2 separate regions of the Homo sapiens genome follow, and region 2 is linked to region 1. A link means that fine-mapping ties the variant in region 1 to the plasma level of a protein whose gene starts in the linked region. Region 1 holds a variant in brackets. A gene starts in the other region. All regions are shown on their reverse strands. Region 1 overlaps LINC02268 (long intergenic non-protein coding RNA 2268). Region 2 holds the start of ADAMTS13 (ADAM metallopeptidase with thrombospondin type 1 motif 13).

The links. A credible set is the group of variants that fine-mapping cannot tell apart. PIP is the chance, under the fine-mapping model, that this variant and not a neighbour inherited with it causes the effect. The UK Biobank Pharma Proteomics Project read protein levels with antibody pairs (Olink). The fine-mapping took linkage between variants from a reference panel, not from the people measured, so its PIPs are less certain.
Region 2: ADAMTS13 starts here. The variant in region 1 is the best candidate, but not a certain one, in a credible set for the plasma level of the ADAMTS13 protein (UK Biobank, PIP 0.58).

Annotation. Positions count from the first base shown.
Region 1 is chr4:174,154,243-174,157,203 of GRCh38, reverse strand. The region is part of intron 1 of LINC02268 (long intergenic non-protein coding RNA 2268); the gene reads left to right. Among named protein-coding and RNA genes, the nearest start is that of LINC02268, 65 kb to the left of the region's middle. The variant TA/A (reference allele first, on the strand shown) is at 1,712.
Region 2 is chr9:133,421,279-133,424,154 of GRCh38, reverse strand. ADAMTS13 (ADAM metallopeptidase with thrombospondin type 1 motif 13) reads right to left here and starts at 1,788. Exons shown (of 29, transcript NM_139027.6): 1 at 1,607-1,788; 2 at 988-1,054. The coding sequence starts at 1,711. RefSeq lists enhancers at 2,034-2,093, 2,214-2,263, 2,494-2,633.

The DNA of each region.
Region 1 (2,961 bases):
AAACAATCTAAACCACTCCTCAGACAGCATAATCTACATGACTGCATTATGCTCACAACATGAAAAGGATGAAAAATAACTGACTATTCAAATATGTATTGATTTGGATCATTAGATTACAGTTATGTTGGGGCATATCTCCAGTAACTTTTCACTAGCATATTTTCATTGCACAGTTGAAGCTAGTTAAATCTGCTCCATTGATTTCTTATTTCAGTGAACTGCTGGACATTTTTGCGGGGAGGGAGATTAAGTAGTTTATACAGTGACACAATAACCAATTCAATTTCTAAAATTAGAGTCTAATTATAAGGTGGCAAAAGCCTTGAGGACATAAAATGTGTTAGCCAAACTAAATAGATTGCTTTACATAAAGTAAAAAAAAAAGTGAAAAAATTTCGTAGTAATATTTTAAGTAAATATCAATGGAGTAAGTGTGACAGATAACTATTTCTTGTTTCATCAGGAATTATACTTTCTAAATAGTTATACTGATCCAAAATAATAATGGAATTAATTTCAAATGTACATGTATATATCATGATATATACACAAATCACCATCTTCATAAATATCACTCTTTAATATGTGAAATTTTTGGTATTTTTATATATATAGACCAGTTATACAGTGACAGGAGGTTGACCATAAGAAAAAAAGACTGAAATTCTTTGGCTGGAAAGTGCCGTAATTACCTTTCCCGTTTCAGAGTCTGTTTCACATTGTGTGACTGCTGTCATGTTCAAAAATAAGTCCCTTATAAAGTTAGACACTAGGTGGCAATAGAAACCCCCCTTTGCTGCCTTTGTCCATTACCTTGCATTTGAAATCCACTCTCTCTTATTGACTTTTAAGTTTCACATAAAAATCAAAAACAGGAAAACAGCCACATTTCTATCACTCCTCTCTCATCATAATATTCCCTTTCTTATGATGAAAGATTATGTTTCAGGTGAACCAAAGTATTTCATGTGCCTATGATGCAGGATTTGGAAAATAAGTTCATCATGTTTGTTACATTTGTCATTTGCGTATTTAGCACTGAAGATGGTACGTTTGTTTATAAATGCTAAACAATGTATTAACATTTTATTGAACCAAAATAAGTTGTATGCTTTAATGCAAGCATCTGTGTATGATACATCAAATTCAATTCATGAAATACCATAATATTGATGACTTAGGTACCTTTTTAGCACTGCATTTCTAATAAGGATTTTCTCCTAAAGTGAATAACAAGAGGCGAGCTTATTGCCAATAAAGATTAAAGATGTGCTTTTCCCAAAATAATGTAAACTGGGAGGAAGAGAAGTATTCAGAGAACGAACAGAAATTTAATATGATAGTATTCATTAGTATTATCCATAAAACCACTGTCAGAATATGTTTAAATTTTTATATAAAATGGCATTGAGGGTTTCAGGGGGAAAGAAGGGCAGAGTATTTGAATAGTGAAGTATCAGTCAAAATGAACATTTATTTTGTCGGCTGGCTCTACTGTATTGCCAGCACATTTACCTTGTTGTACTACACAAAGTAGGCTGACCACCAATTCAATTCAAACTGCTGAACTTGATGTATGGGGTTTGTATGGTTTAAGCCCCTGGTTACTTTCAAGTTTGCTTCTCTTGTTCTTTACCTGGCCGAGGTTTACATGGGTTGAATTGGGAAGGAATTTTTTTTCCAGTGAAATGATTATAGATTTTTTTTT[TA/A]AGTTTGGTATCTGGCCAGGTTTCTAAGATTGTCTTCCTGATTATTTGCTGACAGTATTAATTGATGATACTCTAGAGACTGAGTAATTTTGAAAATAAGCATTTTCACTGTATCAAATTAAAAACTCATTCCAGATTAAAGGAGTCGAAAGAGACAACCAAATTCACTGTGTAATTTTTTATTGGATCCTGGATCAGAAACAATAAAGCATTGAGGAACAACTGTCTACTAGATAATATGTTTCTTGGGTATGTTATATTATGGTTTTATAGGAGAATATTCTTGTTCTTAAGGTGATATATGCTAAAGTATTTGGGGCTAAAATGTTATGTTGACTGCAACTAACTTTCAAGTGAATAAGCACAAAAAATATACATAGAGATGAAGAAAGAAAAAAGCAAATGAAGCAAGTTGTTAAAAAAAGGATGACCCTAAGATATGTTGGTGTTCATTATATAATTCTTCACATCTTTCAAAATAAAAAATTGGGAAAAAAATCAATCAACTTTATCTCTGGAAGTACACAATAGAAAATATGTATTACTATTCTTTTATTTCCTACTTGTCCAGAATGAATCTATCATTTTCTCTAGATGAACTGTACTCCAGATATTCTAAGGTTAATATTTACTTGATTTTTTGTGGCTGACAAAAATTTTGTCTTAAGGGTAAGATAAGAATGATATTTGTTTCTTGAACAGATTGTAAGGCATGAAGAAGGAAAAAAACCACTTGTTTTTATAAGAAAATCTGTTCCTTCTTCTATAATCCCAACTGTCCCAAGCTGAATCACTAGGCATTGGATACACAGTGTGCTATCGGAGGCTGAGTCATCCCTGCTGCAAATCGAAACTGTGGATCTGAAAAGAATTTTCTCATCTAAACCAGAGCTTCAGTCTCCCAGGTGATGTAGTTTTTATGGTGTTATCAGTTTAAAAAATTTCCTCATAGAACGTATGCTTATAATAATCTAAATTCCAGTAAATAATATGACAGAAAAAGCATTTGGAAATATGGAATAGGAATTTTGATGACCACGTCTTGCTATGGAAAGTTAAACCAGCTCCTGGGCGAGCATGTTAATGAAGAAAGCTGTTAACTGTTATATTTTTATTCAGCAAAACAGCCATTAAATATTGTTTGTTTATAGTACTCCACCTTATTCAAAAAGGAATTTGAGGCCAAACATGTAGTAAAAGAGCATTTAAGATATGAGTAGTTTGAAAAAGGAAATTATATTTATCACAT
Region 2 (2,876 bases), not on the chromosome of region 1:
AGGGCAGGGCCCAGGAGGAGCTGTTGGGCTATTGTGTGCTTTGGGTCACCCCATCAAGACAAGATTCCCACTGCCCTGGTGGCTCTGCCCAAAGGGGAAAGCCCCTGCCCTGCCTCCTGGACCCTGCTCTGGGCACAGGTGTTTCACAAGTAACATCATGGACCCCGACAGGAAACTGAACACGAGTGGAGCCCAGTGGTCTCTTGGGAAGCAGGGGCCCAGGCCAGCCCTCACTGTCCTCTCCCAAGGGAGCCCTTAGAGGGTCAGGGACCCTGGGCAATGATCTCCCAGCCTTTCAGGAGCGGCAGCGCTGGAAGGACCCAGGCTATGGGATACCCAGACAGCGTCGGCTGCATCCAGCCCCCAGCGTGGCCCCAGGCACTGGTCAGTGTGCCTCTGGCCTAGACCACAAAGAACCAGGTCACAAAGTGGGCCTTGCCCTCCTGTTGCCCCTGACCACTAGCCCACCTGCCTCTGGCCCCCATCAGCCATTAGTCAAGTTGCCAATGGCCCTACTGGGAAGGGGGCTCGCACCGGAGAAGGTCACAGACATGGGCCTGTGGGCAATGGGGACAGGCCTTTATCATAAGGAAATCCATGGCCTTAGGAGGTAGCCTGAGCCAGTACCTATCTTGTTTCCCACAGAAGGAATAAATATTTACATCCACGGTCAGAAACCACAAGAGCTCCTGAAAATCAGCCAGCTCAGCAGAGGCCATGGGGCAGGAGGGGCCAGCCAATCGGTGACCGTTCCCTTGTGATATTTAACAGAAGCTAGGGTGAGAACCCTGGCCTGGCTGGAACACCCAGACCAGCTTATATCAACTTGGCAGGAAGTAACAGAGTTAATTAACAGGGTTGACAGCAGCTTCTCTGACCTTCTCCTTCCAGATCCACCAAAAATCCCAGACCACTGACTCAGTGGTGAGATACCCCTTGAAAGTCCTGAGAAACTCCCCCCGGGAGAGAAGACACCAGGACAAGTACCTTTTAAGGGAGCACCAGGGCTCAAGTAAGAAGACACGGCCTGTGGCTCCAAAGCCTGAAGACAACTCTGCAAGACAAAAAGAGATGGATGGGGCCGGGCATAGTGGCTCTGGCCTGTAATCCTAACACTTGGGGAGACCGAGGTGGGAGGATCACTTGAGTCCAGGAGTTTGAGACCAGCTGGGGCAACATAACAAGACCCCATGTCTTAAAAAAAAAAAAAAAAAAAAAAAGAGAGAGAGAGAAAGAAAAAAGAACAAAAAGAGATGGATGAAGAGGGAGACAGGAGGCAGGAGGTGGGTGAGGCCAACCAAGAAGGAGAGGGGGAAATCAGAGACAGGGAGAGGAAGGGAGAGGCAGAGAAGAGCAACCTACACAGTTTGGGACAAACTAGTATCTGTCTGTTCAGCTTCACCGAATGAGCAGGTCGTACTGAGACACCAACTCCCTCTTCAGTGAGCACACTTCATCCCCCAAAGCCCCAAGTACAGACTCCCCTGCCCAGCGCAAACCCCAAAGCTGATGTAGTCAGCTATTTGGCACTCCCCTCGCCCCAGGTAGCTCAGAATACCCCACCCAGAGGCTCCCAGAATACCCCCGCTCCTGCAAATGAGCCCACCTGCTGGAAATGGGAGGGTCCCCAGCAGCCCAGGAGAAAGCCACAGGCAAGGATTCCGGCCACACAGAGGGGAGGGCATCTTGCCCGGGGGTGACGCTGGTGCATCCTCAGGAGAGCCAGCCCGAGGAGTGGAGCGGAGTGAGAGGGGGCCTTGGTGACTGGGAATCTGGTCAGTATGGAATGGGACAGGCCTGCTCACTACTGGGCGGGACGATTAGGCAGTGTTTACTCTTGGAAGCTTCCTGCCAGGGCAGGGGCCGTGGCTAGGGTGGGCGGCCTGCAGCTCCTCCTGCTGCAAGCTGGGCCTTGCTCTAAGATGGTTGCAGTTCAGGGTAACCTGCAGCCCAGTCCTGCACACCAGACAGCTCTCCGGATGTGCACGCCCACCCCCTTAGAGGAGGCCTAAGCCATCTAATCTGGAGAAGGGACACTGGACCAGAAACCCACAGACGGGGGTTCACAAGGAATGCCAGGACCTCGGCTGACTCCCTCTCCGGGGTCCCCGCTCCCATCTGACAGATGAGAGGCTGTGCCAAAGACATCGTGGTTCTGGCTCAACTCTCCACCTACTCTGTGCCTGCGCCTGATGAGGAGAGTCGCAGAAGCAGGCTGCACGGCACCAGATCTCAGCATCATCACAAACGGCCTGGCAATCCCCTTCATCTCCTGGAAGACTCACTTCACATGCTCCAAACCACTCTTTTACACCCACAGAGCCGCACAAGCTGATGACCAGCAGGGGGATTCACCTTGTCTTTCCACCCCTCAAAGTGCAGCCTCTCTCCTCCTCTGCGATCAGGGAGGACACACCTACACTTCCTGCCAGGCCCTGGCTCTGGATCCCTTCCCAGCTCTCTCCTCCTGCATCGTTAGTTTCTGCCCCTCTGCTAGAGCCATTCATTCATTCCTTCAGCCAACAAATGTTTCACTGAGCCCCTGAAACAGGCCAGGCTCTGTGCTAGACACCAGGAAAGCAGCCCCAAGCCAGGCAGACAGCAGCCTCGGCCTCTCACAGCTTAAATTCTAGGGAAGAGAGCCAGACAGCAAAGTTGCTAGACAGACACATGTTGTATATGTAGTATGTTCAAAGGTGGTAAGTGTTATGGAGAAAAATACAGCAGAATAAAGGAATGGGGGACTGGAGGGAAGGGTGTGCTTTCATGCAGGAAGGTAAGGAGGCTGTTGGAGAAGGGGGCATGCTTAGATATCGAGATCCTGGTACCTGGCTCACTCCATCAGCATGAATGACTCTCCTGTCTCTTTTTGGTTT